Regions from separate parts of the Homo sapiens genome. Here regions 1 and 3 are each linked to region 2. The links come from fine-mapping of genetic effects on gene expression. A gene starts in region 2. Each other region holds a variant in brackets. All regions are shown on one strand. Distances are between the middles of the regions.

The links. PIP is the estimated chance that this variant, and not a neighbour inherited with it, causes the effect.
Region 1: its variant is fine-mapped to the expression of DAP in whole blood (TOPMed, PIP above 0.99).
Region 3: its variant is fine-mapped to the expression of DAP in whole blood (TOPMed, PIP above 0.99).

The regions. Positions count from the first base shown.
Region 1 is chr5:10,789,163-10,799,417 of GRCh38, reverse strand. No RefSeq gene overlaps it. Among named protein-coding and RNA genes, the nearest start is that of CTD-2154B17.1, 7.3 kb to the right of the region's middle. The variant T/C (reference allele first, on the strand shown) is at 4,268.
Region 2 is chr5:10,755,790-10,766,044 of GRCh38, reverse strand. It overlaps DAP (death associated protein), which reads left to right and starts at 4,811. Exons shown (of 4, transcript NM_004394.3): 1 at 4,811-5,031. The coding sequence starts at 4,977. It overlaps DAP-DT (DAP divergent transcript), which reads right to left and starts at 5,009. Exons shown (of 3, transcript NR_187555.1): 1 at 4,829-5,009. RefSeq lists silencers at 4,276-4,745, 4,826-5,255, 9,302-9,391 and enhancers at 3,908-4,753, 9,002-9,081.
Region 3 is chr5:10,862,842-10,873,096 of GRCh38, reverse strand. No RefSeq gene overlaps it. Among named protein-coding and RNA genes, the nearest start is that of CTD-2154B17.1, 81 kb to the right of the region's middle. The variant T/C (reference allele first, on the strand shown) is at 4,571.

The DNA of each region.
Region 1 (10,255 bases), 33 kb before region 2:
ACTCACGAGAGAGGCACAAAAGTAGACTTGAACAAATGGAAAGACACTCCATGTCCTTGTATAGGAAGACTCAGCATAAAAAAAAAAAAAAATCAGAACTCACTAAGCTAACATATAAATGAAATGTAATGTAATACAAAGTTGAAAAATTCCCAAGTTTTTTACCTAGGCCAGACAGGCTGATTATATAGAATGTATTTGTATTAACATACGAGTAAGCATAGCAGCTTAAGAAAGGAGAGGAATGGCAGGGAGGGTGGTGGAAAGACCTCTCAGATATTAAAACTTCCTACAAAGCTGCCATCATTTCAAAAGCTTTATATTAATGCTTAAATAGGTACACATGATTCAGAATATAAACTCTAGAAACAGACTTATGTGATTATTAAAATGTAGTATACAATAAAGTCAAAATCTGAAGTCAGTAGGGAAAAGATAGACTCTTTCACAGGTGGTGTTAGGATAACTGGATAGCCATATGGAAGAAAATAAAATGGAATCTTTACTCATGCTATATGATAGGATAAATTTCAAATGGTATGTATTTAAATGTAAAAACGAAACCAAACCATAAGGTACTAGAAGGAAATGTGGCTGAATTCCTCTTTATCCTGCGAATGAAGAAAACTTTCCTAATTATGACTTGAAATCTGAAGCATTAAATATAACATTTGATTAATTTGATCACCAAAAAACCTTTTTTATGAAAAATTAACAGCATAAGCAAAGTAGAAAAGGGAAATGATAAACTAAGAAAAAACACATGTATCAAAAGTCAATAACAATATATAAAAGAGATTCTAAAAAGAGAAAAAAAGGCTCACAACTTGACCAACAGTAGTCTAGAAATATGAGCAGATAGTTTATGAAAGAATTAATGTGACTGACTCTTAGGCACATGAAATGGTGCCCAACCTCACTTATAATAAAGGAAATTAATATTATACTAAGATGACATTGGATTTAAACACATCAAATATGATTGAATTTATATGTTCATAATGATACATGTGGGCAAACAAATCTTCATTGATTACCTCTGGAAGTTGCCTGAGAACCAATTCATTTTTGTGAAAATCAGTAAGTAAAAAGAATCAAGCATTTGTCCTGCCTTTCCTAAATGGACTGTCCCTCAGTGTAGTCAAAGAGGTGGTAAGGGGAGCTTTCTTTTTATAGAGCTGTTCTAGCTAATAAATAAAGAATGATAAAATTTAAATACCTATCACCGTTTTGCAACCCCTAACGGAAATCATGCCTTAGAAAAACCCAAGTTACACAAAGTATGCTCCTTTAGCTTGGCTATCCCACTTCTATGCTCTTAGCCAATGATATTCTGGCAAAAATCTGAAAATGTATAGGCGATTCATTGCAGCACTATTTGTGAGACTGCATAAAACTTGGAACAATCCAAATGTCTGTCAATCAGGTACAAGGTGAATTAACTGGGGTGCATATAGAAAGTATTAGGGTACTATGCAGCTGTTAAAAAAGACTAAGAAAGATTTCCATTATGAAGTGATCTCCAAGATTTATGGTCCAATGAGAAAAGCAAGATGGAGAATAGTAAATACAGTAGTCTAAGAAGGGGGATTGAACATATATATAGAATTTGCTTAAAATTTAAAGTAAAAGAAGATAATTGTCTTTAGTGGTTGCCTTATCGAAACAAAAGGGAGTAAAATAGAAGGGACAGGAATAGAAGCCGGACTTCTTTGAATAAATCTTACCTTGTAGTTTTAACTTTAGAACATAATTAGAAAACAAAATTAATTTCTATAAAATCAATCTCTAAAAATCAAAAATAAAGTGAACTAAATGAACTTAAGTGGCAACCAGTTGATAGCATAACCACAAAGAGGAACTATTCCAAATGCCGTTAAAATACATTTCCAACTGTACATCTCCAGTGACAAATCTGTAAGGCAAAAATAACTTTGAACAAATTTTAAACTGTTTTCAGTAAATACATTGCTCCCACAAGTTTTGATATTGCGACATGAAACTTGTGTCTGCGTGTCTTATGGGATAATGCAAATGAGTCATTACTTTGGTGTCACTGAGAATCTGACATTTTAGCATAGAAAAAAATACAATTGTAATATTGATGAAGCTAAGTAAAAACTCTGTGGTCCTAACTTTGAACTGGAAGCTTCAGGACATTCACCAGGTAAAGTTTATCTTAAACAGCAAATAAACAAACAAGTAAACAACCAAAAAAATGTTTTGTCTCTGTCTGTTGCAAGTCCTAGAATCAATGACCAGCCCAGTAACAATAAACATCCCTAGCACCCAGGTTTTATCTTGACATTGCATTTCCCATTAAAACGAATATGTGCTCCTTGGAGAGTGAGTTTTCCCAAGCCTGCGGTAGACATATATAAGAAGAGTCTGGAACTTCGTATTATGCTAGAAAGGAAGGAAGCTGCCAAAGACTGCTAGGGAGCTATCAAAAAGACTCAGAAGCCAAGAGGAAACAACCAAATGTCCATCAACCAATGGATGGATAAATACAAAGTGGTACATCCACAGAATGGAATATTAATTGGCAATTAGAAGAAATGAAATATTGATACATGCTACAATGTAGAGGACCCTTGAAAACATTTTACTAAATGAAAGCAGCCAGTCACAAAAGACCGCCTATTATATCATTCAGTGTATATGAATTGTCCAGAACAGTCTCGTCTAGAAAGTGGATTAGTGGTTGCCTAGGTCTGGGGGTGGGGTACAGGGATGGAAGAGGTAGGTGGAGGGAAATGGAGAATGACTGCTGGTGGGTACAGGGTTTCTTTCGGGGATGACAAAAATGTTCTAAAATTAATTGTGGTGATGGTTGTGCAACTCTGTGAATATACTAAAAACCATTGAATTGTGCCCTTTAAATGGGTGTTTGTACTGTATGTGAATTATATATCTCAATAAAACTGTTGAAAAATATTCAGAGGCCAAACTGCCCAAAGATGGCAAATTTGATCCTGAACCTGTCAATATGCTTACATCCCTAAGTTCACAATTATACTAAGAGGAAAAAAAAAAAATCTTGATTATCTCTGGAGAATGTCTAGAAACAAACTCATTATTATTAAAATCAGTACATGCTATGATCTGAATGTATGTATCCCCAAAAATGCATACATGGGAACCTAAGACCCAGTGTGATAACAGTATTAAGAGGTTGGCCTTTGGGAGGTGGTTAGATTGTGAGGGCTCTGCCTTCATGAATGGGATTAGAACCCTTATGAAAGGGCTCTGGGGAACTAGCCAGGCCTTTGGCCCCTCCATCTCTCCTGCCACATGAGAATACAGTATTGATCACCTCTGGCAACAAGGCTCTATCTTGGAAGCAGAGAACAGGCCCTCATCAAACAACAAAACTCTAGGTGCCTTGATCCTGGACTTCCAGCCTCCAAAATGGTGAGAAATGAGTGTGTGTTCTTTATCAATCACCCAGTCTCATGTGTATTGTTATAGCAGCCTGGAATGGGCTAAGATAGTAAGTAAACAGAAAAATCCAAGCATTTATCGTGTCTTTCCTAAATGAACTGTCCCTCAGGGTATTAAATAGGTGACTGGCAGAATCTTTTTCTTTATAGAAATAATTCAGCTAGTGAATGAAGCGTGAAGAGTTAGGCCATCACCATTTTGCAATCCCTTATGAATTAATGGATTTAGTCAATCAGGGATTGTTTCTGTGTGGCTCTCAGGCCAATGATGGAGTTTCTATAAAGAGTGGTGAAATAAAACAAAAAAGAATATACAACAGAGACCACAGGTGGTGTATTGGTCCATTCTCACACTGCTATAAGAACTGCCCGAGACTAGGTAATTAATAAAGAGAAGAGGTTTAATTGACTCACAGTTCTGCATGGCTAGGGAGGCCTCAGGAAACTTACAATCATGGTGGAAGGCAACAGGGATGCAAGGCACCTTCTTCACGAGGTGGCAGGAAGGAGAATGCCTAGTTAAGCAGGGAAGAGCCCCTTATAAAACCATCAACTCTCGTGAGAACTCACCATCATGAGAACAGCATGGGGGAACCACTCTCATGATTCAATTACCTCCACCTGGTCTCTCTCTGAACACATGGGCATTATGGGGATTACAATTCCAGATGAGATTTGAGTGGGGGCACAAAGCCTAACCATATCAGGTGGCCTGAAAAGCCAGAACATCTACCATCTGTCTCTGTACTGAAGCATCCTGCCACCTTCAGTGCTCATCCGCCATGTCCAACCTCACAAGGAGCCGCGAGGCATCCTAATGACTT[T/C]CAGCGGAAGGAAGTGCAGCCCAGCACAGAGCTACCTTGTCAGTCACCCAACACCATCACCATGGCCAGTGGTCAAAGACAAAACATAGAGATACAAAAGGCCAATGTCCTCACCTCAAAAGGGACCCGATGGAGCTGCCATGGGATCCGGCAGAAGTTGGTCTCCAGCAGAGGCCACATCCCCACCTAGCCCCGTGCCTTCCACCGTGTGTCTTCCTGATCCCTCCTCCTCCTAAGAATTCTGGCTTCATGAATCCCTCATGTAGTCTTCCCCAGCTCCAGTTCTGCTTCTGGGGAACTAAAGGCCCTTGGCATCAGAGTGAGAGGGTGCAGGGGTGGGGAGACCTTTCGGTGCCCATGGCCCCTTCACAGCATGGAGGCATCTGCCAAATTCCACCAGCGCAGCAGGTTCTGATTTCACCCCTGTCTCAGGGTCTCCAGCTTGATTTCTCCCCTCCCAGAAGTAACTTCATGGCTTTGACATCAGGGACACGGGGGCAGCCCCAGAAGTGAAGCAGGAGAACTGGCAACACTGTCAGGCAGGTTCCAGGGACATGACTCCACCCACCCTTCTCTACCGAGCAGTGGCAGCAACACGGATTCCAGAGGGACACCAACCCGTCTTACTCCCAGTGGATTTCTATCCTGCGGCACTCCTAGTTTCCTCCGCCATACACAACTTCTCCATCCATCTCAATGTGCACCACATCTGGGGATGCCTGGGGCTCCTTATAGAACCTACTCAAGTCTTTGTCAGCAAGCCTCTCTAATGTGGCAGAGGGGAGAAAAAAGAAAGGAAAAGAAAGGAAAACAAATTATTGCTGCTTTAAGACTCATAGGAAAAAAAAAACAGGTTTCCCCACTAGATTTCACATGGCTAACAGTTTTAGCTCTCATTTCTTTCTTGCAGAAATGGAAAGAAAGGTTTTTTTTGTTTTTCCTGATTTTGTGAGAGTCTGGAGAGAGAGGCAACATTTTATTTGTCGTTTGTACATTTTAGCTCCGTGTGGGTTCCTTGTTCAACTGACGGCCCAAAGAGCCATCAGTGAGGGGGAGAGTACGCAAACCACTTTGCCTGTGATCATTTTGCAGCAGGTCTGGGCAAAACCACGCTTGCAATGTATTAATGATTTCTGCATGTTTGCAGAGCAGATGGTTTTTAAGGGTATATGTGTGCTCTTGGTGGCCTGCCCCCTGCTGAACAGTGCTGCTCAAGTTCCACCAGGCATCTCAGATTCCAGAGTAAAAAGACCTCACAAAACCTCTCCATCCAACCAGCTTTCCAAGGCAAAGCTTCTGTTGAGTTGTCTCCAGGGGTCAAATGTCTTCCATGTAAGAACACATTTCAGAATATTCAACCGGAATTCTATCTTAAGTAGACTTAGAATGTATTTTCCGATATAGCTGCAGTGTCAGGGGAGCAGCATTCTCTCTTCTATTCAGTACTTCTCCCACCCAGGGTTTCAACTTCCTGCAGGTCATCCTAGGGTTGACACAATTTGAGTCGTGTTTCCTATTTCTTTTTTTCCATAGACATAATTTTCATTTTTTGACTTATTTTTGATCCTATTTTCCAATCTGGCCTGTCATGTTCATTCCATTCGTGTTTGTGAAAATGTGCTACTTGTCTAGTCCTCCTAGATGACACGCTGAAAGGTGAGCAAGTCAAATAGGAAGGCAACTGAGTGCACACCTGAATAGAATACGGGGCAGGTCTGATCCCGGCATGAGACTTTTACAAATGATGATGGTGTTACCCTGGTGGAAGATGTCTGAGTTACTGGCGAATCCATATGGGCCTGCAGCAACCTCAATTCTTGCCTCCACAGAAGAAAGAATTTAGCCGGGCACGGTCGCTCACACCTGTAATCCCAGCACTTTGGGAGGCCCAAGCAGGTGGATCATGAGGTCAGGAGACCAAGACCATTCTCACCAACGTGGTGAAACCCCATCTCTACTAAAAATACAAAAATTAGCTGGACGTGGTGGCACATGCCTATAGTCCCAGGTACTCAGGAGGCTGAGGCAGGAGAATTGCTTGAACCCGGGAGGCAGAGGTTGCAGTGAGCCGAGATCACGTCACTGCACCCCAGCCTGAAGACAGAGCAAGACTCCATCTAAAAAAAAAAAAAAAAAGAAGAAAGAATTTGACTGAGAGGCATAAGGTAGAAAAAGAGACCAAGGAAGTTTTGGAGCAGGAGTGTAAGTTTATTTTAAAAGACTTTAGAACAGGAAAGAAAGGAAAGTAGGCTTGGAAGAAACCCAAGCGGGTGACTTGAAGAACAAGTGCGGTGTTTAACCTTGATGCTAGGGCCTTATAGGCTGCCCCTTTTCCACGATTCTTCCGTTAGGCTGGGCTGCCCACATACACAGTGCTCCCCTTACCCTTGGGAAGTGAGCACCCACAGTGTGTTTAGGAAGCTGTGCACATGCCCATCTGAGGCTTTCTTCCCTTTCCTGTGGGGTGCCCTTGGAAGGTCATACTCTGCCATTTTGTCTCTTTATGTATATGCTCAGGAAGTTGCTTCTCCCTGGTGTCTGCATTCAGTGAACACTTTAGTGCAACAGGTGTGGGCCAGCAGGAAATGGCCTCTCCCTGGCACTGGCTGCCAATTTACCATTTTTAGAGAGGCATTGTGATCGTTGCTGAACCATTACCCAACCTTCCTAGTGGATGGGAGAGCCCTCTTCTGCCCTGCTCATGCTGTCTGACTACCTGTAACAATGAGGGAGGTGAAAAGGAGGGACCCAACTAGATTGTGGCTTTAGGAAAGCATATGCCTTTCTAAAGGAGATGGCACTGTGGCTGGGTTTGAGTGATGGACGTGATTTCAACAGGTAGAAATGGGAGGGGCGTGATGGGAAATGCAAATATGTTTTTTGCAGAGGGAACAGCCTGTGCAAAGGCGAAAGGCAAGGAAGCACAGCCGTGTTCCCTGGATGGGAATCAGCCCAGTGTGAGCTGAAGCCCAGAGCATGGATGGTAAGCAAGCGGGACAGTAGAGGCAGGTCCACGCCAGATCAGAAGGGCCCTGAGAGGTGGGCCAGTGCTGCCTCACTGTTAAACAGCCAGAAGCCACTACAGAGCTTTCAGCAAGTGAGTGGCTGGATTGTACGTAGTCTGTGTTTGCCCGCGAGGCCTTCCATAACAAAGTGCCACACACCGTGTGGCTCAAACACAAATTTATGTTCTCACAGTTCTGGAGGCTGGAAGTCTAATATCAAAGCGTCACTAGGTCTTGTTTCTTCTGAGGCCTCAGTCCTCAGCTTGTAGATAGCCGTCTTCTCCCTGTGTCTTCACATGGTCTATCCCTGTGTGTGTCTGTGTCCTAATCACCTCTTACTATTAAGGACACCGGTCAGATTGGATTAGGGCTCACCTCAAAGACCTCACTTAAATTTAATTGCCTCTTTAAAGACCCTACCTGCAACTACAGTGACATTCTGAGTTACTGGGTTAGAACATCAACGTGTGCATTTGGAGCGACACAGTATTCCACCTATAACGTAGTGTATCTTTATAAAAAATGCACTTAAAGAAGACGGAGACAACAGAGAAGGAGGCAATGTTGTCATGGAGGCCACTGGAGGCTGGCAGAATGAGTCCAAGGAGAAACAATAAACAAACAGGGAATGAGGACTTCAGAGATTTTGTCAAGATGGATGTTTAGGACTTGGCACCTGATGGGTGCTTCCTGTGTGGGAGGGAAGAACTAAAGATAACTCCATTGGAACTCCACGAGTCAGCTTGAACCTGGCACAGACCTTTGCGTAACAATAGTTTATCAATAACTAGGAAGGGAAGGATGAATGGATCCATGGGAGAGCTGATTTGGGCAGGGACTAAGGTGGGAGGCACACTTGCTCTCAACAGTACTTTTGTATTGCTTGAATTAATTTATTCAACAAATCAAATTCAATTCAAAAAATCAAAAACAAAATAAAAAATAATATATAATTGCAGAACTTCAAGGAGTTTTCCATTCTGGGCTAGTTTTTCATATCACTGGACTCTCTCCCTGACCCCAGGCATGTTTGTTGAGGACCGCCTCTGAGAAATCATGCCAGAGTAGAAATTGCAGTTGTCTAAAGTGAAGTCAACTACTAGAAAGAAAAGAAGAAGGAATTCACAAGAACCACAGCAAAGCAGTTATTTATGGAGAGCAATTTGATATTAAGAGGATTAACCCTGGGCTCTTCCAGGAAGATTCAGTTATTAAGGTCCATCTCACCTCCCAACAAAGCCCAACACAAGGAGCTTCAGGTTGTTAAACTGATTGAATGAGATGACACCTACCAAGTGCTTAGTACCACACCTAGTGCAGAGTACGTGCCCAGCAAGTGTTAGCTAACATCCTGTCATGCATTACATTTTGGGGACCTCCTCGGTGAGTTACATGGAGCAGAGGGTGCAGCCATTCTTGGTCACTGCCCCACAGCTCTTCCCCCTATTACTTGCCAACAGAACCCCAGCTGTGTCCAGGGACTGGAAGGCCTTGAGCTTCTGGGGGCTGAGCTCCCCCTCTAGCCCTAGAGTGAATTGGGATTGGTCTCGGCCATTCATAGTCATTTTACTCCCCTTGTTGGTGGCTAGTTTAAGATTGTGTGATGGTTACTGTTGTGTCAACTTGACTGTGCCATGAGGCATCTGGATATTTGGGTAAACTTTATTTCTGGGTGAGTCTGTGATGGTGTTTCCAGGTGAGATTAGCATGGGAATTGGTAGACTGAGTGAAGCAGATTGCCCTCCCCAATGTGGATGGGCCTCATCCAATCTGTTGAAGGCCTGATTAGAACAAAAGGCTGAGCAAGAGAGAATTTGCTCTCTCTGCCTGCCTGACTTTGGGCTGGGACGTCTCTCTTCTGCTTTGGACTCATGCTAGAACTTAACATCATTAGCTCTCCTGAATCTCAGGCCTTTGCACTGCAGATCTGGGGACATTTCAGCCTCCATAATCATGTAAGCCAATTCTTTATTTTATATATATACACACACACACAAACACATACACACTTGAGTGTATGTACATAAATATATCTATCTCCTATTAGTTCTGTTTCTCAGGAGAACCCGGACTAATACAGCTTGGAAAGAGATCACAGTCATGGTCAAGGGCAGTGGAAGTAAGAATCTGCTGGGGAACCTCTGGGAAATTATCCCTTACTCTTAAAAAGGGACAGAGATGTTGTCATCTACATGGCATGCCTGGAATTGTCATAGCCATCTCTGCATCATGAGGGAAGCCAACCCTAAAAGGATAAATCAAGCCCACGAGGATCGCAGAGAGAGAAGGGGGGAGGAATTGAGTTTTAGAGGATTTTGTTGCACTGCTGAGTTAACCAAGCCTGGTACTGGCCTATCTCTGAACTTCTTGTGAAGGAAATAATAAATGACCTTAGCTTCTTTGTTATCTGGTCTATTACTTACAGCCAAAAGCACCCTAACTGGTAAAACATTATTTGGTTCTTGTGAAAAGCTTTGGCTCCTCATCTGGTGCACCTCTCACTGTTTTCTTCATCCAGACTTGGGGTAGAGGTTTAGGGGAGTCCCTGTGCAGAGGCCTATAAACCAGCATTCTTTCCACAAGAGCGTGTTACATATCCCTGAAGCATCTTCCTCTTGGAAAAAACTTGGGCAAACAAGTATAATTTCCTGGTGGCCAAAGCGCATGTGTTTCACACTGAATTCTTCACAAGTTGAGACTTCTGTTCTCTAGTAACTGCCCTGCTTTTGCCTGGACTCTTTTCAATGTTTTCAGCATCCTGGTGCTCATGTTTTCAGCATCCTGGTGCTCACATTTCTAAACCCCAATACAGAATTCCAACTGTGGGCTCATCAGCTTTCTCCAGACTATTTTCTTTGTGTTTGCCAAGATTCTTTTCTGAGATGAGTCAGAATGCTTTTTCTACTGATAAACAAGTCAGCCTCACTGCCCCCACAACCCTGGGCTGTCTGCCATTCTTCTTCGATCCAATCTCCCCCATTGG
Region 2 (10,255 bases):
TCTGTTTAGTCATCATTGGCTACTCTTCATTTAGGTAGCAGTTGTGAGAAATTAAATGTATCTATGTTCTAGAATTATGGGGAGAAAATAACTGTTGAATGCTTCTTCTGTGCCCACCATGGTTTTAGGTGCTGGGAATACCTAGTGGGCAAGATGGATTAGGTTTCTCCCCTCATGGAGCTGACATTCTAGTCAGTGGAGAAAAACAATAAGCCAGCAGACAGATAAATGAGGAATTTCAGATGAGGATAGAGTGCTATAAAGACAGTAAGACAGAGCAGGCCCCTTGAAAAGCTGATTCCAGAATAAGAAGAAGTTAACTACGCGAGGATCTGGAAGAGACAGTTCTCGGCAGTGGTGTTGTAGGACTTTCTTGTTAGCCTAGCTAAAAAGAGCGTCCTTGTCACATAACCACGAAAGATTAGGCTCACAGACACTTTGAAGGGTGGGGAAAATGGAATTTATTAGGCAAAAAGGAAAAAAAGGAAACAGGGACTTTCAGCAAAGCAAGAGTCCTGCTAGCCGGTTTCCCGCGTCACAGATTGAATCCCAGATTCCACCCGGGAAGAGGTCAGGCTCCTCTCCCCTGTAAAGGGCGTGAACTTCTGTGGCTCCACCCCATCTTCCGGTGTGCAGGTAGTCAGAGTTTCTCTGCGGACCCCTTTATGCTTGGCTGTCTCAGTGGGAGTGGCTAACACAAAGTCCCAAGGGGAAGAATTGGCTTGTCCTGCTAGAGGAACCTCAGAAAGGCCAGTGTGGCCAGAGGAGCCAAGAGGGAGGAGCTCACAACTGGGCAGGACCCCCATCATGCAGGGTCTGGTAGGCCATGTGTGCTAGGGGTTGCATTTGGCTGCCCATGAAGACACCAACCACAAGGACTTTATTTAATAGAAATTTGTTTCCCACACAACAAAAAAGTCTGGACGAGGAGTCCACAGCTCTGAAGCGCCTCCATGGACCCTCAGATTCCCACATGCCTTTGACCTTCCTGCTCTGTCACCTTTAGCTTGTGATTTTCATGCCTTTGATTGCCTCACAGTTGCGATATGATTGTTCTACCTTTGGCCTTCTGTCTGAATTCAAGGTGGTACAAATGATGTCACCAGGAGGAAGGGGTGTCCCCATATTAAGAATGTAAATTTTCCCCAAAACACCCCAGCAGATTTCCATGGTCAAAACTGTGTCACTTGGCTACCCCTAGCTACAAGGGAAGCTGAAAAATAAATGTCTTTTTTTTGCGAAGTTCACTACCTTCTTAACAGTATTTCCTTCATTAGAAATGCTATTGAGTAGACAGATTATTCCACACTGTAATGAGTAGCTTGGATTGTATTCTAGAGGAGAAGCTATTTGCCGATAGGTGGGAAATCAAGAGTTCTTTGAAGATGTAAAATTAACTTGGCTGTCACACTGTCAGGAGCAGAATGTACCTGAATCACGTAGCACCCAAATATAATACGTTAGTGGCAGTGAATCTGTACAGGTCTGCAGCAACCTCAATTCTTGCCTCTTCAGAAGGAAGAATTCAACTGAGGGGTATAAAGCAGAAAGAGAGACTGAGGCAACTTTAAAGGAGGAGTGAAAGTTTATTAAAAAGCTTTAGATCTGGAACAAAAGGAAAGTACACTTGGAAGATGGCCAAGCAGGTAACTTTAGAGATCAAGTGCACGGTTTGACCTTTGACTTAGGGTTTTATACATTGGCATACTTCTGGAGTCTTGCATCCCTTGATTCTTCAGGGATCAGTCTTATCCCCTGATTCTTCCCTTGGGGTAGGCTGTCCACATGCACAGTGACTTGCCAGCGCTTGGAAAGTGAGCAGGGGCAGTGTGTTTATTGGAAGTGTACACATGCTCACTTGAGGCAATCTTCCCTTACCAGCCTCATGTTCCTAGAAGGTCATATACCAGTCAAACGTTGCCATTTTGCCTCTCGATGTGTGGCAAAGAGATCTTACCAGGAAGCTGCTGACCACCACTTTCAGGTTTTTTCTATCTACTGGGAGACTGCCTTTCCCTGGCACTGACTGCAACCAATTATTATTTTAGAGAAACAGTGTAACAACTTCCTGACCATCACCTGATGGTCACACAACATTTCTGGTGGTGTGGGTTGTGGGGGAAGAGTCCTCTCCTGCCCTGCTCAGGCCGACTAGCTACCTACTGTAAGACAACCAGAGTTTCCCAATCAGTACAAACCTGGAGAACAGGTCACAGGCAAAGAGACACAACCTGTCAGACCTCAGGGCAGTCCAGGGGCCACCAGGGCCCCTCTGGAGCTCTGCTCCTTCCTGTGAAGGCTTTCTCCCCCACCCCCCAGGGTTCCTTACCAATAGCATTTGTTATTGAGTCTAAGATGCTGTGGCTCGTAACATGCAACTTTGTTTTAGGTACCACTAAGGGTAAAAACACTACCAATTAAATGATACCACAATGTGCTCTTTCAACTTAAAATTTTCATTTTATACTTCCAAGAAATAATTCTTTAGGCTTAAGACATACGACATAAGTTTTTAACTATATAGCACTTTTGCACATACATAAAAAGGAAGTTACTCATGAAATTAATCAGTTAGGTATCCTTAAACCTTTAAGAACGTGAGTGATGTGCTATCTCTTTAAAGAGTAACCCAGTATTAATTTCAGGATTCTCTTCTAAACTGCTGGCACCCACTTGGAAGTTTGGATGTGAATGCAAGACAATGGCAAGCATATCATGACTGCAGCCTGGCCAACAATTATCCTATTACCGGTGTTGAAATGTGTGTATGGAGTGGGGAATGCAAGACCAATGTATGCTATGTGCATCTCCATGTGTGCCCTGATGCACAGAGTTGCGCAGCACTGAGTTAGACAACAAATAGAGAAGCCAAGGTGGCGGTGGTGAGTTTGGAGTTCAGTGGAGGGGCAGAAAGAGAGAAATTAAGTTGCAGATGTGGCACCCATAAGCGTCTGCAGGTGGTGGTGGTGGTGAGTCTGGAGTTCAGGGGAGGAGCAGAAATAGAGAAATGAGGTTGCAGATTTGGCACCTGTAAGCATCTGCATGATAGTCGTCCACAGGCTGCATGTGACTATCTATGGGAAGTCTAGATAGAGAAGAAGGCCAATGCTGAGCCTTGCGATACTCAAATGTTTATAAATCTAGAAGAGGGCGAACTGCCAAGCTGACAGAGTGAGCAGCCAGGGTGGCCAGAGAACTGGAGGGTAAGGCAGTGATGTGGCACCTCCGGAGCAAAGGAGGAGGGGGACGGCCAGCTGCATCAAGTGCTGCTAAGAGCTCAAATAGAATGAAAGTAGAAAATGACCATTGGATCTGGCAGCACATAGGTTATAAGTGACTTCCACAAAAGGACCTCCCATGGTTGAGGGCAGTGCAGCAGAACTTGATGAAAACCAGACAAACTGGACTGGAGGGAGTGACAAGAGATGAGGAGCTCAGCCTCCCTGAACAGTTTTGTTGTCAAAGGGAAAAGTACAGCCAAGCGAGGGGTGGTGTTTCCTTCGCTAAAGAGATTAGGCCTGTCTGAATGCGAATCCAGCAAGGCATTGCGGAAGTTAACAGCAGTTGCAAAACACTGGGGCAGGCGGGAAGAACACGATCCAAGGCACGAGAGCCAGGGGTCAGCCACGGCAACAGGAAGATGATGGTGAAAACCAAAAGTTTCTGAGAGTGGTCTCAATTTAGGAAGTTTATTTTGCCAAGGTTAAGGACGTGCATTGACACAACCTCAGGAGGTTCTGATGACATGTGCCCAGGGTGGCCAGGAAACATCTTGGTTTTATACATTTGAGGGAGACATGAGACATCAATCAATACGTAAGATGTAGGTTGGCTCTTTAGGAGGTAAAATGTGAAGTGGAGGCGTCCGGGTCATAGGTACATTTAAAGGTTTTCTGATTGGCAACTGGTTGAGAGTTATCATCTAAAGACCTGGACTCAGTAGAAGGGAATGTCCGGGTTGCATGAAGGAGTTGTGGAGACCAAGGTGTTATCATGCAGATGAAGCCGGGAATACACTGCAAATGTTTCTTATCAGAGTCCTCTATTAGTCTTAGGGTCTCCGTGCGGATGTTTGTGAGGCCATGTTTGACTTCCGCTTCCCATCAAGGCCTGAACTAGTTTTTCAAGATAACTTAGAAGGCCACAGGCGGAGGGGAGGGTCCATCCGTTGGCTGCAGGGCTTAGAATTTTATTTTTGGTTCATAACGAGGAGGGCAGGGACAGAAGCCACCGTCTCTGCTCCCCAGCGCTGGCCCTCACTCGGAAAGCAGGCTCTCCCCTCGCATCGTCTTTTAACAAATTCCTGCTCTCTCGGCCCCCGTCGCTGCCATCTGGGCTCTCCTTTCCGCGCTTCATTAGGCGCTGCCGCGGCAGGGGCTGAGGGCCTCAGGGGACGGTCGCCTCCCTGCCGGGACGCCCCGGCCCTGGCCCGCACTGTGGGGCGCAGTCACCCAGCCGTCGCCGCGTAGCCAGGAGCCCGGCTGAGCGCGTTCGCTGCAGGAGCCATCCTCAGCTGGGCCCTACTTAACTTTCCGCAACTCCAGTCCCCGCAGCCAGTCGGGGACCCCGCCTCCCTCTCCTTCCTTCTCCCTCTCACTTCTTCACCCCTTCTCTCCCCTCCCTCCTCCGCCCCCGCCCCCGCCCCCGCCCCCGCCCCCGGCCACAGCATCCGACGTGGCGCGGCCGGCTGCGCACGCACCGTATGCTTGGCTCGCGGCCCAGCAGGGCGGGCGGGCCGCGGTGACGTCAGTGCGCATGCCGTCGGTGGGCTCGGCTGCGCCACGTCGGCGCGCGGCGGCCGCGCCCCCTTAACGGCAGTGGCACTCACCCGGCTCGCGCGGCCCCGGCGCCCCACGCGCGCGCGTCGTTCTCCCGCCCGCTCGCTCCCCGGCGCTCACACCTGAGCTCACTCGCGCACGCCCGCCCGGCCCGAGAACCGCGCCGCCGCCTCGGCCCCGCGGAAGCCCCGCCGCGTCATGTCTTCGCCTCCCGAAGGGAAACTAGAGACTAAAGCTGGACACCCGCCCGCCGGTACTGACTCTTTTCCTCTCTCTCCACGCGCGGGTGCCGGGGGCGGGCTCGAACCCGGGGGCGCCGGGCGGGGGCTCCGCGGGGAGGGCCCCGGCGAGCGCTGAGACGGGTTCCGGGCCTTGATGCCCGCCCGAGGGGCGCGGGCCGCGGAGAGGTCGGGCGCCCAGGCCCGGGAGGAGCCCGCCGGAGCTTCGGCCCCGCTTGCCGGCGGCGGCGAAGCGTTTCTTCCTGAGGACCGCGGGCGGCCGCGTACCTGTGCGATTGCGCGCAGGCTCCGGTGCCTTGGGCGAACCCAGTTGCACAACTTATAACAAAGTTTTGGCGGATAATATTTACTTAGAGGATACAGATGTCTAGAAAGAAAGTAGCAGAAGCAATGAAAAGTCAGTGGTGTTAATATCATGGTGATGATTAATTAGAGGCTGCCAGCGTTTCATACCGACTCAAGAACCAAGGAGCGGAAATAATTTTTATCATTAATCACTCAATATGACTTTCACCGCCAGTTTCTTCCACATCCAGATTTTTTTTTTCCCCCAAAGTTGCTTTTTCTGATTTTGAGCAAATCCTAAACTTCTGAGCCAAGGAAGTTAAAGCCAGGAAAGAGCGGTCTTTCTTAGAACATAGGGATCTAAGCAGCCTTCATGCTTCTGCCACCTCCTCCTCTCTCTGGGCACAGTTCCTGTTTGCACTTTGGATTCTGTCCAGACGGGTCTGTTTCCGTTTCTACTCTCCTTTCCAGTGGCAGTCGGCCCATATGGAGGGACACTGGTGAGAAGATCAAAGGCCTTGGGTCTCAGAAGCCAAGTCACTTCAATGTATGGATGCGTGAGGTTCTTTTAGGTCTTAATAGCACGCCTTAGTGTCATAAACTCAGTCTTGTAGGAACAGAAGTCTTTGAGAAACATGGCTTCTTTTGGTGGCACATTTGCGCCATTTTCTTGACAATAAAGATTCCTGGCCAGGCGCGGTGGCTCATGCCTGTAACCCCAGCAGTTTGGGAGGCCAAGGAGGGTGGATCACTTGAGGTCAGGAGTTCAAGACTAGCCTGGATAACATGGTGAAACCCCATCTCTACTAAAAGTAGAAAAATTAGCTGGGCATGGTGGCGGGCGCCTGTAATCCCAGCTATTCAGGAGGCCGAGGCAGGAGAATGGCTTGAACCCGGGAGGCAGAAGTTGTAGTGAGCCAAGATTGAGCCAAAGCACTCCAGCCTTGGCGACAAAGCGAGCGAGACTCCATCTCAAAAAAAAAAAAAAAAAAAAAAAAGATTCCCATTATCCTTCTCTGCTGTCCTCCGCTATAGGGCGGGAATTCTCTGCACCAGCACAATGAATAGGAGCCGTTCTTTAAATATGTTGCAGTCCAGAGTAGGCAATATTTTTCAGTGGTGACGGAGGCTCTCTACAACAAAACTAACTGGCACTGGGAAAGAAAAATGTCTAACTGATGCCAGAGAACTTAAGAGGCATGGGGTTTTAGAAAATCATTCCACTGTGATGGAAAATGGTTTTGGGGGAATTTGTGTTGCATTGGTTTTAAGAAAAAAAGTACTTCAAAGGGAGTTTTTTTTTTGATGGGATTTCTTTTAAGGATAACTGACTTCCATTCCACCACAGCGGGTCCCTGTCCACTGTGGGGAGGAGCGCCTTGATTTCCACCCCGGGCAGGGCTGCCTCCAGGAACTGCAGCAGCCACCTGCTCTGGCCCTCCACTCCCCAGGACATGGGTTACATTAAAGCGTATCTGTTGGAATGATACAGAACCAAAGTACAGTAATTAAATTGCATACAGAGACACACCCATAAAGAAGTTTTTTGTTTTGTTTTTTGAAACAGAGTCTCACTCTGTCACCTGGGAGTGCAGTGGCACGATCTTGGCTCACTGCAACCTCCGCCTTCTAGGTTCAAGAGATTCTCCTGCCTCAGCCTCCCGAGTAGCTGGGTTTACAGGTGCCTGCCACCACACCTGGCTGATTTTTGTATTTTTAGTAGAGACCGGATTTTGCCATGTTGGCCAGGCTGGTCTTGAACTCCTGACTTCAGGTGATCCACCCACCTCAGCCTTCCAAAGTGCCCATATGGAGATTTTTAAGGTCAGAGGTATAAACTGTACATACTCACTCCCTGGGAGAAATTCCTTGCTGGACTCTGGTTTTCTTTGAATTGCAGAGTAAACAGCTAGGCTTTGTGAATTACAGAGTAAGTAGTTTATTTACCCCTGAGGAGGGAAGAGGCAGCTTATTTGTGCTAGTGTAGCAGTGAGCTTGGGTTCTAAGTTTGAAGACATCACTTCACGCTTCACTGGGGCTCAGTTTTTCTCCTTTATGAAATTCGAGGTTTGGGCCTCGGGGCAAGTCACAGGGTGGGGCTGTGTTTGCTGCAGTGAGTCTCACGTCCCGCTTCAGCATCAGGGTACCAGCACTGTTCATCCCCCAGGTAAACTCCTCTAGTAACTTCAGGGCAACCCCTTTAGACTTACGGGGTGAGCTCTTGCGGGTGGCTGTCACCATCTGTCATCTGTCTCCAAGACCATAGTTAGAGGAGGGGCCCAATAGCAGCACCCCTCAAATGCCAGCAGCATCCCTCAAATGCCAACAGCACCCCTCAAATGCCAACAGCACCCCTCAAATGCCAACAGCACCCCTCAGATGCCAACAGCACCCCTCAAATGCGCTTTCCTAGATGTTACAGAGGACCATGTGTGAACCTTTTCTGGCAGGAAGCTCTGGTGTTCTTGTTTAGTCTGGCATTGCCAGAGAGTAGGCAGCTCTGAAGGGTAGATAGTTTTTAAAAAAAAAAAAAAAAGGCGGCCCACTACACTAAAGGATAATCATCAAGGATAGCCAAGAGCACAGTTCATAAATCAAAATCACTGCCTTAAAAATGTTGAGAATGCTTTCATTAAGTGCTTAAATTGGATAACAGACTTGTGCCTCAATGCTCAATCAGAAATAATAAAATTCTCTTACAGTGACTATCTTAATGTTCTTTTGTGTCTTCTCTTTGTTGCTGTCTGGCCCATATCTCCTGTACATTCCCCGCAATCCCCTTGTTTTCCTTCGTGCACTAACCTTCGCCTCTCTGCCTGTCTTCTTGCTTCCAGGGCTGGGTCTTCTTGATCTCTTTATTCCCGGGGTGGCACAAAATACTCAATAAGCACTCCAGAGTTTCCCCAGGGCCTCTTCTCACCCCTCACTGCCCCCATAGCAAACCGGGCCCACACCTTCCTCAACTCTGAGCTCTCTGTACTGTGCGCAGGGATGCAGGTGGTCCTCTTGGCCGGTTCAGGCAGCAGACTGGTGGAAACACTAATGAAGTTTGTTGAGTGTCACAATGTGCTGACACACTTCTAAGCGCTTGGCACGTTTAACTCATGAAATCACCAGTCATCTTAACATTGAGATACCGAGGACAGTGCCGTTTAAAAACCTGACCCAGAGCCGGGTGTCGTGGCTCACGCCTATAATCCCAGCACTTTGGGAGACCCAGGTGGGGAGAGCACCTGAGCTCAGGAGTTCAAGACTAGCCTGGCCAACATGGTGAAACCCCGTCTCTACCAAAAATACAAAATTAGTCGGGTGTGCTGGTGGGTGCCTGTAATCTCAGCTACTCTGTAGGCTGAGGCAGGAAAATCGCTTGAACCTGGGAGGCAGAGGTTGTGGTGAGCCAGGATCACACCACTGGACTCCAGCCTGGGCAAGAAGAGCGAATATTTCGTCTAAAAAAAAAAAACCTGACCCAATTGTTTGGAGTGTCTGTTGCCAACTCCCCTGAGCTAGTGACCTAGTGGGAGCGGCCGGAAAGGCTGTTGCCTTTTGGAACTTCAGCAGCCCGACAGACGACTCCATCACTGGCCAGGTGCCTCCTCCCAAGGTGGGAGACGAATGAGGCAGTTTGTAAAGGCTTCTGAAGAGTGTTAGAGAAAGGTGCTGTGCAAATACAGGTATTGTTATTTACAAGTGATGGATGGCACTGCATCATGTCCTGGCAAATGTGCTGTCGTCTGCAGTCCTCTGTAGAAGTAATCCAGCCTTAATGATTTGAGACCTTACCACTGCTCTTGACTACAAAATATTTGCAGAGAAATGGGGTGAGTGCTTGTTTGATGAGTTATTGCAAATGCAGATTAGCAGAGTTAGAATTAGCGAGATTCTTTCTGTTTCATCTAACAGCAGTCATAGCATTCCACAGCAGAAAAGAGGACCTAATTATAAGCCTCGCTATTACTCATTTCTGCCAGTCTTTGTGAGTCTGTGGCAGTGAGATGTGTAAAATCTCTTTGTTAAATACATTTTGCTGGCCCTGTTCCCCTCCATTTCCCAGTGGAGCCAAAACCATGTGTCAGTAGAGTTCTCATAAATCTGCTACATGATAGCTTTGAATGTTACTAATCTTACATGTGGTTTTCTTTGAAAAGCAGACTCTACATCCCCTCTCAAAGTGAATTAAATGGAAATATAAGCACGATTATATTTATTTCAAGCCATGTTACTTTTTTTAGTAACTTCAGAGTAACTTAGTTCTCTCTTACACTAATTGATACGTCAGACATGAGTTAAGGATGCCTTTCAAAAGTCTAGTGTAATTCTCCCTGAATTATCTCCCTGCAGAAAGACTTTCAGATTATCCATTGCTAGAAACAGAAGACTAATTTGTCTTCTATTAACCCTGTGGTCACAGATTTGCTAAGCATAGTCCCAGTGTCAACCAGTCAGGACCAGAAATTGAATGGTCCAGGTAAGAGGTCTGCCCTTGTTCCCAACATGCCAAGGAAAACAAGACCCTTTAGTTACTATCTTTTTTCAGAAGCCTTCTGTCAAGGTGGCCCATGGCATTTCACCTCTTCCCTAGCCTTTTTTTGTTGTTCTTGTCTAGACAGGGTCTCTCTCAGGCTTGAGTGCAGTGGCGTGATCTTGGCTCACTGCAACCTTGGCCTCCTGGGCTCAAGAGATCTTCTCGCCTCAGTGTGCTGAGTAGCTGGGACTACAGGTGTGCACCACCACAACCAGCTAATTTGTGTATTTTGTGTAGACACAAGGTTTTACTATGTTGTCCAGTCAGGTCTCAAACTCCTGGGCTCAAGCGACCTGCCCACCTTGGCCTCCCAAAGTGTTGGGACTCCAGGCATGAGCCACCGCACCCAGCCTTCCCTAGCCATTTTTGGTTATCTGTGACTTCTAACGTCTTTGTGAGTGTCCTTTTCATTTCGGCCAGTGCCCTGT
Region 3 (10,255 bases), 110 kb before region 2:
AACTAGATGCGCCGATAAGGAAAAAAATGCCAAGATAATTAAAAAGGTATTTTCCAATTGAGTTAAAAATTTGTGTTATATATGTGGAAACTTTCAGAAGGATACACAAAAAACAAGTAACTATGGCAAGCTCTGGGGTAGGGTATGGAACTGGAACAGGGTAAGCTGCTGTCTGGTTTGTCTGGGACTGAGGGACCTCCTGCGATGTGGGGCCTTCAGTTGTAAAGCCAGGGCAGTTCCTATCCACAGAACACCGTCAGGAGTGAAAGGCCCGCTCACTTTTCATTGTCCATCATTTGTACTGCTTGGTTTTTTTGTTTTGTTTTACCATGTGCATATTATTTTCTTAGTTTAAGAAATTTAAATAAAATGTAAACTGCCCTAGAATTACTTGTTTGTTTTTTTTTTTAGACACAGTCTCGCTCTGTTGCCCAGGCTGGAGTGCAGTGGCATGATCTTGGCTCACTGCAACCTCCACCTCCTGGGTTCAAGCAATTCTTGTGCCTCCACCTCCTGACTAGCTGGGATTACAGGTGCCCACCACCACGCCCAGCTAATTTTTGTGTTTTCAGTAGCAATGGTGTTTCATCATGTTGGCCAGGCTGGTCTCGAACTCCTGACCTCAGGTGATCTGCCTGCCTCGGCCTCCCAAAGTGTTGGGATTAGAGGCATAAGACGCCACACCCGACTGGTTTTTAATAAGGACGTGGTCACATTTCATAGTTTGTATTCTACGATGGGGTCGGCTGAATAAAGGCCCCCAAAGATAGCCAAGTTGCTATCCCTGGAACTGTGAGTGTGACCTTCTAAGGAAAAGTGACTGCAGAGACAGAGGCAGAGGTTGAGGTGATGCACTTTGTGGATGGAGGAAGGAGCTACAAACCAAGGAACAAAGGCGGCCACGACAAGCTGGAAAAAGCAAAGAAATGAATCTTCCCTGGAGCTTCCAGCGGGGTGTGTGGCTCCACCAACGCCTTGATTTCAGCCCAGTGATTTCAGACTTCTGGCCTCCAGAGCTGTGAGAGAATACCTTTGTGTTATTTTAAGCCACCAGCTTTGTGGCAATTTGTTACGGCATTCATAGGAAACTCACACACAAGATTTTCAAACACTGGAGAGGAAACGTCCACGCTTCCTACACATGAATATGTTGGCAAAGCCTGGCCACATAGCGAATTCAGGCAGCAGCTTCATGTAAACTAACTCACCCAAGTCAGGCTACAGCGAGATCATCCCACCCGCATGATCATGACGGGGGTTTATTTGCCTGGCCCATTACCTTCCACGCTGACATTTACTGGACCCTGGATAGAAAGTTCCAAAATTCAAAGCCTGAATTCTGTGGCTGAATACAATTTCTCTGCTCAGGTAATAATCCAAAGCAGGTTCATAAATCAATACATACATGCTAGGACTCCAGATCAAACTTTGGCCAGTGTGTGTGACAGGGTAGATCATTAATAAACGTGAGTCTTAATGAGGCTATTTTTTAAGTATCAACTACAATCACCTCTGTTCAAACTGAGATCTGCTTGATTTATTATCATTTTTACTGTACATTAATGAAAAATAAGTGGTAAAATTTTTTAATGTGTGAATTAAGGAGTTTCATATCCCTGAAATCACTCTTAATTCGATAGAATCAATCATTTTGAATACTTATAATTGTCTGATTGATGATATTTACCTTAATGGATCTTTTGCCCTAACAAAAAATTATTCAGAGATGCAGTACCTACATATATTTATTCAAAAGATTTTTCTCAGGTGCAATGAGGGTAATACATAAACACTCCAGGATTTTCCAATGTAATTTGTAAGGTCTTCCTTCCAAAGTATCAGGTTTTGACCTGGTTCTTAAAAAACTGAATCTAGAAAAGGATACTTAAAAAGCCAGACTTTCTAGTGATGAATTTTTATCATTTTCTTGGTGATTAGTTTATGCATCATCTCTCCCTTTCCTGGATATTTTAGCTTTTGGCGATGTCTCCCTGTAGAACGAGAATGTGTGAATTTTTAGGGCATTTGCTTTCAAAAACGCTCTGGCTTTTATAACAGGGAAGCCAAGAAGTATGTGTAAAATGGGATTAAAGCGGGAGAAATTGGGCAAGAATTCACTACACCAATAATTCTCTTATGACATCTGCCATGAGGATGGGAAAGTGCATGTGTCGACGACGTTTGTGCAAGAAATTCAATTTCAACGCAGCTTCCAAAACCGTCAGCACGTCGCCCATCTAACAAAGCTCCTCTTCCCCTATCCTGTCATCTTCCTAGGTCTTTATTGTTCTTGCCAGCTCAAAAAAGCAAGCCTCACCCTAACTTTCTAAACAGGACCATATAAACTGCATTTTCAAATGCCAATTTCTGACTGCAGACAAGGTGGAATATAAAATCATGGAAAAAAGAAAAAATGACAAAACTCTATCCTGGCCCTGTGATGACTGTGAAGATTGTTTGCTTATCATGCTCCAATGACCCCTTCTTGACTGTATTTCTGATGAAATATAGAGGGTTATACAAAAGAGAGAGGAGGAGGAGAAGGAGGAGGTGGGAGAAGAGAAGAAGGAACTGGATGGCGAAGGAAGCTGTGTTTGGGATTAAAATAGTTGCTGCTTGCCAGGCACAGTGGCTCACACCTATAATCCCAGCACTTTGGGAGGCCAAAGCATGCAGATAACAGGGTCAGGAGTTTGAGTCCAGGCTGGCCAATACAGTGTAACTCCGTCTCTACTAAAAAAAAAAAAAAAATACAAGAATTAGCTGGGCTTGGTGGCGGGTGCCTGTAATCCCAGCTACTTGGGAGGCTGAGGCAGGAGAATTGCTTGAACCTGGGAGGCCGAGGTTGCAGTGAGCCAAGATGACGCCACTGTACTCCAGCCTGGGTGACAGAGTGAGATGCTGTCTCCCAAAAAAAAAAAAAAAAAAATGCTGCTAGTGTTGACTCCCACCTTCCGGTCCACTTTGGACATTGCCAAGGGGAATTCTCATGTATCTGAAGGGGTCCCCAACACCCTGATGCTCTTGTCAGTCAACCCCCACCCTCTGCACCCACCCACACCCATATATGCAGTTTTCTCTCCACAACAGACTTAAAGAAACCATTTAAATAGCTCTTCCAATGCTGCATTTTTAAAAAAAAAATCTAATTTTTCCTTAAGCTTTCTCTTTCCTTTCCTGTTCCCAGCCCTTGCTTTGTTTATCCAAGTTTGTGTAGCAAGAATGATAATAATGCCTATCTTTGATTAACTCTTAGTATGTGCTAGTTTCCATGAAAGGGCATTATCTGTTTGCTTTCTATTACCCAGCACAGGAGGCATAATTATCACCTTTTTGCACCTCAGCAAACTGAGATTCATAGGATTATAGTCGCCCAAAGTCAGATAGCTTGCCATTGAACTTGCCCTCCCCTGGAAGTGTGAGCCTTTACCACTCTTGCCTCCCAGGAGATGAGAAGTGGCACAGAATGGCTTTTATGGAAGAAGAGTTTATAGGGCTGCAGTGCCAATTGATTTCTTTTAATTTTATAGATGTTTTATAAGTTCTCTTCTGAATTCACACTGAACCTCACACAAAGTATAAGGCTGTAGTCAAGTTCAAGGTAGAGAGGAAGGAAGGAGGGGAGGGAGGAAGGAAGGAAAGGAAGAGTTTAGGATAATGTTATTTTAAACCTAGGAGAAAATTCTACAAATAGCCTAAGTTTCCATCCACCTTTCCCTAAAATAGATCATTATTCTGATGATTATTTCTCCAAATGAATTGAATAAAAAGAGAATTGCCCTGTTGTAGGTTTTCCCATTGGCTTTACATCTCTGAAGCAAAAGCTGTCAATTTGTCAGAGGATCTATTCTTTACAGCTTATTGAGCCTGGGGCAAAGAAACTCAGCTACGGAGAGCATTAAATCAAGCTGGGGCTGGCCTCGGCCACGTTCCACAGCGGCTGGGATGTTATGCACGTTGTGGAAGACTCCACAGAGAGACGAGGGGCTCGGGTGGATTCTACCTCCTGTTCTCTAAGGGCCAGTGCCAAAAAGATAAAATAACTGTCTCAGATGAGAAGTTTCTGATTTACTGCTATTTTTTTTCCTGTGTTCACAGAATGGAAAAAGCTGCTTTGAAGCCATTGTTTTTCATTGGGTTTAAGGAGTTGAGTTTATAAAACAAATAGCTCTGCGATAGTAAGCAATGTGCTAAGAGATGAAGCCCCAGGAAAGCTCCATTGGGCCAAATAAAAGCTTTGAATCCAGGGGAGTAAAGGCAGGGCATTTGTCATCCAGATTTAAGTAATCGACTTTCATTCGCCCCACCCACCTCCCCAGGTAGCAGGTGCACTCATCACACAGAATGTTATAAAGGGCGCTGGCAACAGCGGTAGGAGGAGGATGAACTGACCCAATAAAGTATTCCCAAGGCCTGTTGGGAAAGACAGTTGTAAATGGAAAACAATTACTGCTAATAGGGTAAAGCACTTGTAGTTTACAAAGTATTTTCACCGGCCGTATCCATTCGTTTGATCTTATATTTACAATTTCCAAACACACAACTCCCATGGTCCTTCTGGGAGTTCCTG[T/C]CCTGAAACGCATCCTCTGAGGCTGGGTTCTCCCAGGAGGCCCTGAGCAAGGACCCAGGCCCCGGGGATTTCCTGAGGATGTTCTCCCGCAGGGACAGAAAGAGGTGGGCAAAGCCAAGTAGGGAGGAGGAGAAGCCAGCAACAGTGCATTTTCAGGGGTGGTCACGGACTCAGCTTCAACCCAAGGGGCCCCTAGAGTATAGGTTGTGCCTTGGATTCTGTCCCACCCTTAGCGACGGAGACAATTGGCTTTTGAACCATGGGCAACTCTTGTGGGAGGCGAGGGTAACCTAAACATCCAGGCCCTTCCATCTCCTGCAAGAGAGTTAAGGTTGGTTCACAGATCCGGAAAAGGGCCCTGGAGAGGCACCAAGGCCCTCTGCTCCATGTGCCCCCCCCTCTCCGCACCTGCTCCACATACCTTGGCTGTCCTCCCTCATAGCACTCCTCTGTGAACCTGAGGAACTCCTGCTAGTACTTCAAAACCCCGTCCAGGTGTTAGTGACACATTCTTTGATTGCCAGTAACCCAAGCAAAAAACCTCTTCTTTGATGCTCTTCCTTTGACTGGAATATCCTTCGAAGAGCTGCACTTGTCGTTAAAATTTTAATGACTCGTTCCCCAAGGGCCACAGTGTTACTGGTGGAGGGTGTCCAGGTTCCCAAGAATTGGACAAAACACACAAAGCAAGGAAAGAATGAAGCAACAAACAGAGAGATGTGTTGAAAGTACACTCCACGGTGTGGGAGCGGGCCTGAGTATAGGGGCTCAAGAGCCCAGTTACAGAATTTTCTGGGGTTTAAATACTCTCTAGAGGTTTCCATTGGTTACTTGGTGTACGCCCTATGTAAATGAAGAGGATGAAGTAAAGTTACAAAGTCATTTACTTGGTGCACGCCCTATGTAAATGAAGAGGATATTTCCTGTCATAGCTGAAGCATTTCCACTTGATTTAGTTCTGGGAAGTCCTTAGGTTCCCTGCCTCCAGGCCCTCTTCTCCTAGTAAGCTTGATCCCAGGGAACAGACATTATTGTATTATCTTTATTGTAGTTGTATTATATAACTACTTTATGATAGTTGTACCTATTTGGGGAGTACATGTGATATATTGATACCTGTACACAGTGTGTAATGATCAAGTCAGGGTAATTGAGATATTCATCACTTCAAACATTTATCTTTTCTTTGTGTTGGGGACATTACAATTCTCTTCTAGCTCTTTTGAAATATACAATAGATTATTTCAACTACAATTTCTCTACGATTAAATACTACAACTTACTCTTTCTAATTGTATTTTTGTACCCATTAACCAACCTCTCCCAGATATTAATGCTTCTCTCTAAGACCTTAATTTTCCCCAGTGAGGCAATGGGGAAAGCGAGCCCCCTGGCTGCGGTTTACTGAGGTGGTGTTAAAAGACTCCCAGTGACAGCAAAGTTTGTTTGCCAAGTCATTCTTCTGAAGGGGACCATGTGAACAAATCCCTAAGAAAAGCTAATGCCAAGTACTCAGCATCACCCTTCAGAGCACAATACACGGTACTTCAAGAGTTTTAAAAAGAGAGTTCCTCAAAAACTCAAGCTGTTTTTATTTTCCTGGATACTTATGTAGTGATCATATCCATTGTGAGGTTGCCCTCGGGATGTTGGGATTTTCTAAGGAACGTAAAGTCCCCAAGATTAAAGCAATGTTGTAGTCAAGAAGTTTCTCTTACTTTCACCCCATATTTAGGTGTATATTTCACTGATGTTCCAAGTATAGAAACACATTTAGCAAATAATTTTGATCTTTGAAGAAGTTCTCTTTTCAACTTTATCAGGCAAGTTCACAGATGCATTTTACAAGGCAAATCGGGAAAAAAAAGGAGATCAATTCTACTGCCGAGAAGGAATCTAGGTCAATTTTATAGATTCACACTCAAATGAAATCCACACAAGAACAAAATTCAAGACATTGGTTAAAAGAAAAATCATACCAAGTACCAAGATAAGTTAAATTGCTATATATGTACAGTTCGATAAATTGAAAACATCCTAGATCTTTACCAAAATTAATTTCTCTGGCATCTTACAGAAGCATCTGTGGGCTTCCAGTAATTTGTACTTTTAAAAATCTTATACAACAGTGTTCCTACAAAAAGAAAGTAAACACTTGCAACCAAAATTTCCATTTTTGCTCGTCAAGATTTCAATCGATTTTACTTGAACAAGCTGTTTTCGTTCAATTCACACTGATTAACATTAGCCCAATCGCTGAAAACTTTGTGGTTCTGGGATACGGGTTTTAATTGTCTTCATAATGTACTTGGAAGGTCACTGGGGAAATTGAACACAAAAGTTTTCCTATACCATGTGCTGACTAAATAAAGAGCCCGAGCAGCATGTACCTCAGCAATCTCAATCTCAAATTGACCTCCTTTTTGTTTTCTCTTTTCTGTTACAGTGTGTTTCTCATCCTTTTCTTTTTCTGTCAATATTTATGTAGATGTCAACTATATTCTTGCCTCTCTGTAAGTACTGCTTTTCTCTAGGGCTCTCTCATGAAAACAAAATTTCAGTCAAAATTGTTATTTTTTATCCTCCCTCTGTTCGCAGCAAGCACGGGTCTTAGATGCAAAATGTACGGGAGAGCCAGAAACTCAGAAATCAAAATAAAGAATGTCTTAATGCAATGTTTTTAAAAATAAAAATGAATGTTAAAAAAAGAACTCATGATTAATAAAATATCCAAATTGTGGCTGGGCACGGTGGCTCGTGCCTGTAATCAGGCCTCCCACTTTGGGAGGCTGAGGCAGGTGGATCACCTGAGGTCAGGAGTTGGAGACCAGCCTGGCTACATGGTGAAACCCCGTCTCTACTAAAAACACAAAAAATTAGCTGGGTATGATGGTGGGTGCCTGTAATCCCAGCTACTCAGGAGGCCAAGGCAGGAGAATCGCTTGAACCCGGGCGTTGGAGGTTGCAGTGAGCCGAGATGGCACCATTGCACTCCAGCCTGGGCAACAAGAGTGAAACTCCATCTAAAAAAAAAAAAAATCCAAATTGTAATTATTCAGCCCTGATAGAGGCTCTGTGGTGGTCATCAGTAGTCCTTAGTGCTCCTGGGAATGTGATAGAATTCCTGGCTCCCTCGAGGACATAAGTGGGGCCATGTGACTAGTTCTGATCAACACATTGCAAACAGAAGTGATGAGCGTCACCTCTGGACAGGAGCATGTGGCTGCCAGTTCAAGACCCTCCTAAATTTTTCTCTTTTTCTCTCATGCACAGCAACTGGCAAATTCCCAGACCAGCATCATTGTATTGGCCAGGAACCTGCACACCTAGGGTGAGCAGAAACTCCCTAGAAAGCCACTGTGGTCAAGAAGTCTGAGTGAGGAATGAGCCTTTGTTACTTCAAGCCACCTAGTTTCTGGGGAGTATCTGTTACAGCAGCTGAGCCTCTCCTGACTGACTGATATACACATTAAGCAAGGTTTGCACTGTGGAAATCCTCAGTTTCTCAAGTGAAAGAAATGAAGCCGTCCCCAGCATCCAGTCTTACAGCTGGAACTTCTTGCCTAGAAAGAGCAAGATGCTGCTTCTCTCCTTCCCTAATTTCCTGTAGATTTTGTTCTTAAGACTGAGAGCTTTGTAGATGGACAATTAGAGACTTTAAAAACTTGTTTCAGTTGGGCACAGTGGCTCATGCCTGTAATCCTAACAGTTTGAGAGGTCAAGGCTGGTGGATCACTTGAGGTCAGGAGTTCAAGACCAGCCTGGCCAACATGGCGAAATCCTGTCTCTACTAAAAATACAAAAATTAGGCCAGGCACGGTGGCTCACGCCTGTAATCCCAGCACTTTGGGAGGCCGAGGCGGGTGGATCACGAGGTCAGGAGATCGAGACCATCCTGGTTAACACGGTGAAACCCTGTTTCTACTAAAAATACAAAAAAAACTAGCATGGTGGCGGGCGCCTGTAATCCCAGCTGCTCGGGAGGCTTAGGCAGAGTAGTGTGAACCCAGGAGGCGGAGCTTGCAGTGAGCCAAGATTGCGCCACTGCACTCCAGCCTGGGTGACAGAGCAAGAGTCCGTCTCAAAAAAAAAAAAAAAAAAAAAATAGCTGGGCGTGGTAGCAGGCACCTGTAATCCCAGCTACTTGGGAGGCCGAGGCAGGAGAATCACTTGACCCCGAGGGGTGGAGATCGCAGTGAGCCGAGATCACGCCACTTCACTCCAACCTGGGTAAAAGAGCGAAACTCCGTCTCAAAAACAAAAACAAAAACAAAAAACTGGTTTCACCTCTTACAAGCACCTAGGATGTGAGATAGCTCATGAGCAAAAACTTTAGTTGCCAACCTGTAAAGTGAAATTCGAAATACCTCCCACACAGGCAAATAATGGAATTAAATGAGATAACACAGAAAAACACCTGGAACACAGCCAATAATTGACACATTTTAATCTAATTGCACTCAAGGTGTGACCGAGATGCTCATTGCACAGCAGACCACATCATCCCCAACTTAGGAGGCCCAGGACCAGGAGACAGCACTTTAGCAGTGCCCCCTGGTGGTTATGCCGAGAACTACCTTAGGAAGCCCTGGGTTCTTCCTTTCCCCCGTGGTGGTTGCTACGAGGCCGACCCAGTGGCCTGGGTTGTTGTTTTATGGATAAATTTATTTTCTTTGCTGAGATGGGCTCGGGAGAAGAATCACTAGCAATTCAGTTTGCAACAACCTCGAAAAGTGGAAGAAAACAACAACATGGCTTTGGAAAGAAAGAGTCCTGACATGCTAATATCCCTTACCAGTTTTAATGCATTTAGAAAAGGTGGATGTAATGCTATGGTCCAAATGTTTGTGTCCCCCAAAATTAATATGCTGAAATCTTCACCCCCAAGGTAATGGTATTAAAAGGTGGGGACTTTGGGAGGTGATTGGGAGCCCTCATGAATGGGATTAATGCCCTTATGAAAGAGGATTGATAGCGATCCCTCAGTCCTTCCGCCATGTGGAACACGTGGGAGGCAGAAAGAAGGTACCGTCTACAAACCAGGAAACAGGCCCTAGCCAGACATTGAACCTGCCAGTGCTTTGATCTTGGACTTTCTCAGCCTCTAAAACTGTAAGAAGTAAAGTTCTGTTGCTTAAAAGCAACCCCATCTATGATATTTTGTTATAGCATCCTGAACAGACTAAGACATATAAGTATGCCTGAGACCAGCAAAACCTATGGGTTAAAAAAAAAAAAAAAAAAAAAAGTTATGGCTGGGCGTAGTGGCTCAGGCCTGTATTCCAGGCACTTTGGGAGGCCAACGTAGGGGATCCCTTGAGGCCAGGAGTTCAAGACCAGCCTGGCCAACAGGGTGAAACCCAATCTCTACTAAGAATGCAAAAATCAGCCAGGCATGGTGATGCACGCCTGTAATCCCAGCTACTCAGGAGGCTGCGGCACAAGAATCACTTGAACCTGGGTGGTGGAGGTTGCAGTGAGCCGAGATCGTGCCACTGCACTCCGCCTGGGCAACAGAGCGAGACTGTCTCAAAAAAAAACAAAAACAAACAACCGTTACTCTCATGAAGAATTCCATAAAACTAACAGGTTGGTACCCAGTTATTTGGAGTATCATGTTAGCACTAAATTATCATTTTTTCATATTGAATCAAAGAGAATAAATGTTCCAATGAATCTGAGCAA